2 separate regions of the Homo sapiens genome follow, and region 1 is linked to region 2. Evidence: fine-mapped QTL for protein levels in blood plasma. A gene starts in region 2. The other region holds a variant in brackets. All regions are shown on one strand. Distances are from middle to middle.

Region 1 (4,000 bases), 45 kb after region 2:
TAACCTTAAGCTTGGCACGGATGTGTAGTAACTGTAATTTTCATACACTGCTGGTGGGACTATAACTTGGTATAAACACTTTGGGAAGCTGCTTGGCCATGTGTAGCACAGACGAATATATGCATAATCTATGACCCAATATTCCAACTCATAGGTGTATACCTAACAGTCACCTAAAGACAGGCACAAGTACCTTAATAGTGACAGAACTGATAATAGCCCCAAACTGGAAATCATCCAAATGTCTTTAATAATAGAATGGATAAATGAAATGTAATATACAGTGGAATACTATACACCAAGGAGAATGAATGAACTCAACTACATGCAACAACTCAGGTGAATTTCACAGGCATAATATTGAGCAAATGAAGACAGACACAGAAGATCATACACCGTATGATTCCATTTCTACAAAGTTCAAAACAAGCCAAAATTAATTTATGATGTCAGAAGTCACAAAATTAGTTATCTTGGGAAGGTTAGCAAGTAGAAAAGGATTTTAAAGGGGCTTCTGGGGGCTGGTAATGTTCTGTTTCTTAACCTGGCTGCTGCTTTTATGAGTGTGTTTACTTGGTAAACATTCTTTGAGCTGTATACTTGATCTGTGTACTTCTCTGTGTATATGTTATATGTTAATTAAAAGATTACATTCATTAAATACATGCATTTTTAGACAAAAAGAGAGAATCTGGAGCCCAGAATTATTTACTCTCCTTGATGAAGGCATAATTTTGTGGAGAATAATGATGCAAGCTCCATGAGGACATGAACATTTCTGCCTTTGTTACTACTGAATTCTCAGGGCCAACCCACTATGTCTGTCAAATGCTAGGTGTTCAATAAATATTTATTGAATGATGTTTCATAATGGAAAACTCCATGTATAGTAATACAGTTATTGACAGTAGATATATGTATATATGAAGATATATATGAATATATGTACTGACAGTACATACACACACACACACACACACACACACATATATATACCGTCAATAACTGTATTACTATTCCATATACTGTCAATAACCGTATTACTATACATGGGATTTTATATACATATATACATACATATATACACACACAAGTGTGTGTGTGTGCATATGTGTGTGTATGTATACATATATATATATATGGGGTATTCATCAACATCTTCACCTACATGTAGCAAAATGCTTCTCTTCAGGACAGGTGAATTTGGTATGGTCAAAATATATTGTCTGTACATTAAATTTTGAAATAAAGAATCGTGAGTAATCTTGACTATCAAAAGATTTTTTTCCTTTCCTCTGAATGTCTCCAATTGAAGCTTTGGGGTTTAAAATGCTCTGGTAGACTTTTGCATGGCTTAGAAGGTCAAGCTGCATTAATACAGCTTCAAAGACTAGAAAAGCAAATTCCCCCGTGTATATATAAATGAAACCAGAAAGACCTGTGACATCAAGTGCAACCTGAGGCCAAAGATTCACAATCAATCAGAGAGCTTGAAACACACATAAAAGAAGGGCAGCACACAAGGGGCACAGGATCTGATTCTCTAGGATCATTAGGTGTATAAGACACCATCTGGAAAGGGGCTGGTTTTGTCTGATGAGGACTTCTAAAATTACCTCTAAAAAGATTAAGGGTAAACTTCATATAATATCGAATGACTCCTCTGTTCAGGCAATATTTCGCTGTCCTTCAGATAAAGATCCCTGTTTGGTTTAAGCATCTTTTTCAACCTCTGCCTCAGTGGCAGATGCAGTATCCCTTCCAACAGAGAAGAAATGCATCACAAAGAGGTTCTTGCTTTAATTTTTGCTAGCACTCTCCCAGAATGTGGCCATAAAAATAATCTTGAACTGGAAGTCAGGAGTCTTTCATGCTGTATTGCTTTTTCTTTTCTTCTTTCTTTACCTTTCTTTCTTTCTCTCTGTCTCTCTCTCTCTTTCTTTTTTAAATTTTCTTGTAGAGATGGGATTTCGCCATGTTGCCCAGGCTGGTTTCGGACTCCTGGGCTCAAGCCATCTGCCCGCCTCGGCTTCCCAAAGTGCTGGGATTATAGGTGTGAGCCACCGTGCCCAGCTAGAGGTATTGCTTTTTCTGCTGACCAACGAAACACTTATCTTCTTCTGGGTTAATTCGCTCATCTGAAAATTTTGTGAGGGTACTTGCTGTTGTTTAAGTCTATTTCTGGTTCTGAAATTCTGATTCAGAAAAGTAATGTTTTCCTCCACACTCTAATTTTTAAAATTCTCTTCCAATTTCTCAGACTAGAGCTAAAGAGAAGTGAGAATGTGGCTGGGGTGAGGGAGGGCAACTAGAGCTGTGGAGAGTTGGTGGGAAAGCTCTGGTTAACTCGCTGTATTCTTGCCCTCAACTTCAGTCATCAGTCTGCCCTCCTGGCTGGCTCTTTTTCCTTCTTCCTTCCTGTCTCTTGCTTCTCAACCTAATCCATATTGTTCAAAAAATAGTAGCTACCTCTCTAA[G/GA]TTGCAACTACACAGGCACAAGCACACATGCAGGTGTATTCACACTCACACAGAACGTTCTATATTCATTTATGTATTCATCTTAAAAATTTTAAACAGAAACCAATGAGAGACTTTAATAAAGCCACAAAATATATTCTATCGTCTCACAGTGTGAAAAAGTCTAAGAGGAAATTTTTAATTCATTTTGCAGATGTTTTTCACAACATCTTTAACCTAAAACAGGATTCCAATTCTAGTATTCTTTTCATATTGGGAACTGGATCATTGAGGGTGTCAATATAACATATGTCTTGAATAATAAACTACCCCAAAGCCTTCAAAACTGAATGTATATTATTCTATTTAAAATAATCTATAATGAGGCCGGGCGCGGTGGCTCACGCCTGTAATCCCAGCACTTTGAGAGGCCAAGGTGGGTGGATCACGAGGTCAGATGATAGAGATCATCCTGGCTAACACGGTGAAACCCCGTCTCTATTAAAAATACAAAAAATTAGCCGGGCGTGGCGGTGGTCGTCTGTAGTCCCAGCTACTCGGGAGGCTGAGGCGGTAGAAGGGCGTGAACCCGGGAGGCAGAGCTTGCAGTGAGCCGAGATCCTGCCACTGCACTCCAGCCTGGGCGGAAGAGCGAGACTCTGTCTCAAGGGAAAAAAAAAAAAGGTGATGATGTCAGCCTCAAATGTACCTTGAGCAAACCTGGATTCCATCTTTCCATTACATACCCTGCTGATTTTCAACCATAAAGAAATCTTCCTATTAGGCACATTGTTTCCTGTGTTGTTTTGTTTATTTTTATGTATAGTATTAAACTATTAATAGAACCTCAAAATAGAATGATAATTTAATTAAATCATTCTTTTTTGGTTAAAACTTAGCTATCAATGAATCTATTTCCACAAGAGTCAAACAAATTGGTCCATAAGAAACTAAAAGAAAACATTCCCCTATAAATCCGTTGCAGCATGCACAGAGCTAATGCACTCAAATTCTATTAGTGAATTTGTTTTTTTTTCCTTTTTTTTCTGTTTCAGTTCTGATTAATAATGCCTGCAGAGGTACTAAAATCCAAAGCTCTTCCCCTTTCGTCTTTCTTTCCATTTCACAATCCTGTGTTGAAAGTATTTAGGAAACTTTCCTTTAAAGTTTTAGCCTATATTTCAAAAGCCTAATGGCTTAAAATATTATGGTTCAAATATTATGCAGGGAATATTTCTAGAAGGTAAGTAATTCAATTCTTCATAAGAGATTAAGGGTACATTTTGGCTAACCTACAACAGGGCTGCTACCAAATCCAGGAAAACCTTGTCTCTCCTTCCCTATAAATATGTCAGAACCAAACCCATAATGAGTCTCAGACACCACTCCAATAATGACCACAAAACAACCAAGACAAAACAAGGTCTATAAAACCACTTCCTTCCAAACTCCAACTACCTTCATCTTATGTCCTTCAAAGACTTCCCATTTACCCTGGCTTTTGGTAGGATACCCTTGTCAAGCTGGCTTCCTTCCTCTGCTTT
Region 2 (4,476 bases):
CAAATACCACCACCCTAAACCATTACCACCATGAATATGTTTTCACACTACATTTTAATTTTAACAAGAAGAACTTTAACATTTAGAAACATTATTTCCTCTTAGATTTTCTTTTCTTAAAAGTTGGGGAAAAAAGAAAACTATAACCAATATTATATATCTCATTATCCCTTACCACTCAGTCATATCTATGCCAAAACTTCTGTTTAGCTATAGGCAATCCTTTCCTTCATATCAGAAATAATTTAATTGAGCGAGGGGTAGGGTGGATATAAGTTCAGTATATGTAGCTTCACTTTTTAAAGGAAATTCTGATATATTCTGAAAAAAAATTGCTAATCGTATTAGTAAGTATATAATGCTGCATCCTCCACGTGTAACAACTTGTTTTCTGTCACATGCAAATTCAGCTGCTTTCCTTCGTTACTCCATTCAACAAATTTATATATTAACAGTACATTCAAAGCATTTAAAACTTCACAGTGCCAGCCGGGCGCGGTGGCTCACGCCTGTAATCCCAGCACTATGGGAGGCCAAGGCGGGCAGATCATCAGGTCAGGAGATCGAGACCATCCTGGCTAACACAGTGAAACCCTGTCTCTACTAAAAATACAAAAAATTAGCCCGGCATGGTGGCACGTGCCTATAATTCCAGCTACTCGAGAGGCTGAGGCAGGGGAATCACTTGAACCCGGGAGGCAGAGGTTGCAGCGAGCTGAGATTGCATCACTACACTCCAGCCTGGGTGACAGAGTGAGACTCCGTCTCAAATAAATAAATAAATAAATAAATAAAACTTCACAGTGCCCAGGACACCTGAGACATTCTTGGTGCTTGTGCTCTTTGAAAGAGCTGAGCAACCTAAAGAATATGACTTATGTCCAACAATTCAGTCTCCTTTATTATACCATCAGATAAAGTGATGTTTTACAAGGAAAATGGAAATATTTTAAAACTCGAGGAGCCCAGCACATCTAAAGGATTTCTGTTTCATGAACTTACGAAAAAGCTGGACAGTCGGAAAAGTCTTACTTGCTTCAAACAAGTCAGACCGTTTTCTCCTGTTACCTATGCTTACAGTCAGATTCCCATTTACCTACAATCTGGCCTTGAGATCCAATATCAAGGCTGGTGGCAGTAAAATGGAGCCAAACACTGTGATTTCTCCCATGTAAATTTGGAATTTGAGAAGTTAGAAAAGTGCTGGCTGCCAGACAAGGTGACTTCCCACTCACCTCCAGCTCAGTGTTCAACATTTTTAAATATCAGCCCCCACCCTCGCCAGGCCACCAACACCAGCCAGGAGCCTTTGAAGACACTTTCCCCCTATGCAATTTGAATGTATAACGTATTTTAAACTACATACCATATGTACTGTATGTACGTCTGTGCGTGATGTATCAAAAGGGTAAAACTTTTTCATCCCTCCACGAACCAATTTTCCCCTGCTGGGGGCGATATCACCCCTGTTGAAAATGCACGTCCTAAACAACAGCTACAAAAACTCAAACTCACATTTAATTGTCTTTTCAAGGCCAGAAGTTCCTAAATCAATAATGATTTAGCACCACTTCAGTCAAAACAATTACATCCGAATCATTTTCAAAATAGAAGCTTAAAATATATATAATCCATGAAATGCATAAAATTGGGCTAAGTATTGTTCCAGCAGTCAGCAACATTCTGGTTAATTTTTTGCATTACTCTCTGTTCGTTAAGCTCTATTTGATGCTTGCTCACAGAACCAAAGATTTGATTAGTGTTGAATTTTACACCTTTCAAGAAGCGAAAAAACCAAACACTCTCTGAGAAAACATTTTTCTGGATGGCAGCAATTGGTAATTTGCAAAAGCAGATAGAAAATGTTCATAGAAAGCACTGCAATTTTCAATTTACCAAACGAATAAACTAACCTCTGCTGCTCACAAAGACCTGAAAATAAATGGCCCACAAAGTTATCAGTCATAAAAACAAATCAATGTTTCATTAAAAAACCACTGTGCCATCTGCATATGCAACCGAGGAGAAACTTCTCCATCCAAAAAGATTCCAGACTGCTCATGTTCTACCATAACTTCAAAAAACAACCAACCCCCACCCCAGCATTTTCAAATACTCATGGCCAGAAGTTTAATAAGACTAAGAAACAGAACAGTCACCAAGAAATGCAGGATATATCCTGTCCAGTCCACTACTAGGATGGTTCTGCATTTTTATATTGTTTCAAAAATAGTGAGGGCAAAGAAAGTCCTCTGTATGAGCCAATAAAAAGAACTTCATCACATTAAAAATTGAGCTCACCTACCTTCACTGGTCCATGTTCATTACTGGAGCCCTGCACCAGCTGGACGTACAACATCATGAAAACATTCACCACTACCCACTCTCTGTACATTTTGAATATTTCAATATCCACTGATTACTAAGCAGTTGACATCAGGCAGCTAGAGAAAATTGTTTCAAAAGGCATTCTCCAGAAGGAAAGTTTGAAACCTCAAAACTTCACACAGAAAACCAAATAATCAGTTCTGATCAAAATCCAATGAAATTATTTCAATTAGGCAAGGTACGCTTTTTTTGCACAATCTTAGGGGTGGGGAGAGAGAGATGAAAAAAATCAAAATGTTCTCCAAAAATAATCAGAAGGTGGACATGTCTTCTACCTGAAATTAGAAAGCACTCTAAATTTACTTCATGTCCAGAAAATTAAAAAAATCTCTCCAATGTATGCCGCAGGTTCTAGTTGCTTTGTAAGGAGGTGGTGTGGCCACCAATGCTTACAGCTACAGAAAGCTGGAACCCAACTCTGGATTGAAACTTTTTTGCACAACCTTCATGGAAGCTTGCAGAAGCATGTGTCTTAAATCTGACACAGATTTTGGCAGAAAATGCAGAGAAGTCTTGGCTGTAATCCTGTTGCGTCCCTACCAATAGCAGGGCAGTTTTAAGAACTGACTCAAATGTTCAGGGCTGCCGTTATTTTAAAGCAGATAACCTGTAACATGAAACCCCAGCACATAGCTTTGACCTTTGTATCTCAGTGGGATTGCTTAAGAAGGGACCTCAGATGCTCATGCATCTGCTGCCAATGACACACAGAAAGCAATCAAATATGATTTTTAAAACCTGCACATGCACAAAAATAATAAAAACATCCATCCATACATGCAAAAAAAGGCAAACATACACAAAACGACTTTTTAAACAGAAGCTTAGTAACTTAGGTATCTCAAATGAAAAACACTGATTTTTAAAGAAACAATGATTAGGTTTATTTGCATGTGCCAGGAAATATCCTACATTTATTGTTACAAAAACCATGTTATCACGTTAGTGTGGAATTCTTTAGAAGCACCGGCTAAATAAGCTTTAGAAATGGAATGCCTTCAATGGCTCAATCTCAGAAATGGCAAAATTCTAGGACACATCAAGACCTGCTCTTCCGCTTTCCACTAGTTCCCAATCTTTGATTTCCAGGTTTTGGCCCTTTCAAACCCATTTTTTGCGTTTCTGAAATCAAGAATAGCTTGAGAAATCTCTTCATTGGTGTTCATCACAAATGGACCTAGGGCAGAAAGAGACATTCAGAAAGTTCTGGGTGGCAATATTTTCCTCTACCACTAGAAATGATATATATTTCTGTAGTTCTTAATTTAAAACAAAATCCAAGCACATCCGAAGAGTAAAAGTTTATTTTCACAGTGTTCAATCCCCAAGGACTGTAAGATGAGTTTCTTGACTAGGATTGTATATGATTATTGATTATAAAGACGAAACTTCAGATAAATGCAATGGCATCTCACCCATTCAGTATAGGTTTCTCACCAGCAATGGTGATCTTTTTTATTAAAAAGAGTCTTAGATTTGGTTCTATTACAACCAATTTTGTAGTTATTTTTATAACATTAGCTGATGTCAAGAATTGAACCCATCTGATACAAAGAACTGACAAATCTTATCATAGCTTTGGTGTCTAAGCAGCATATAAGGCTGTATACTTATTTGAGGATTCTAAGTCATTTTTTGAAAATCAGCAGCACCTATTGACAATAAACAGAAGATTATAAAAATTTCAAGTCGAAGAGCATCATTTTTTAAAAGTTTTCTAGGGGTTGGCAAATGTTTGCTAGGAAGGGCTAGATAGTATGTATTTTAGATTTTGTGGGTCAAACAGTGTCTGTCTCAACTACTCAACTCTTTCATCAAAGTGCAAAAGCAGCCATAGATAATGCAAAAGTGAATAGGTATGGCTGTGTCCCAATAAAACTTCATTTACAAAAACATGCAGTGGGCAGATGTAGCCCATCGACCATAGTTTGCTGACCCTTTTGTCTAATTGCTGGGTCTGAACTCGGATTTTGCTAAAAATGTACAAGAAGTCCTCCCCTAATCTACCAGGAGGCAATGTGTGTTTCTTCCCCTTTCTTCATATATTGTAGGGGCAGAGAGGCACTGGACTGTCTCACCCCCATGATC

Direction of the effects. Positions count from the first base shown, and alleles are read on the strand shown. Strength reflects both the effect of a copy and how common the allele is.
As copies of GA replace G in region 1, the plasma level of the protein whose gene starts at base 2,862 in region 2 goes up (strong association).

What was found. A credible set is the group of variants that fine-mapping cannot tell apart. PIP is the posterior inclusion probability: the model's chance that the variant is causal. Protein levels are from antibody-based Olink assays in UK Biobank. Linkage for the fine-mapping came from a reference panel and not from the study's own genotypes, which makes the PIPs less certain.
Region 1: its variant is the best candidate, but not a certain one, in a credible set for the plasma level of the VEGFD protein (UK Biobank, PIP 0.88).

What each region holds. Positions count from the first base shown.
Region 1 is chrX:15,426,734-15,430,733 of GRCh38, forward strand. All of the region lies in intron 5 of PIR (pirin), which reads right to left. The region is part of intron 4 of PIR-FIGF (PIR-FIGF readthrough); the gene reads right to left. Among named protein-coding and RNA genes, the nearest start is that of VEGFD, 44 kb to the left of the region's middle. The variant G/GA (reference allele first, on the strand shown) is at 2,478.
Region 2 is chrX:15,381,552-15,386,027 of GRCh38, forward strand. It overlaps VEGFD (vascular endothelial growth factor D), which reads right to left and starts at 2,862. Exons shown (of 7, transcript NM_004469.5): 1 at 2,306-2,862. The coding sequence starts at 2,395. It overlaps PIR (pirin), which reads right to left. Exons shown (of 10, transcript NM_001018109.3): 10 at 3,248-3,565. The coding sequence ends at 3,453. The region is part of intron 9 of PIR-FIGF (PIR-FIGF readthrough); the gene reads right to left.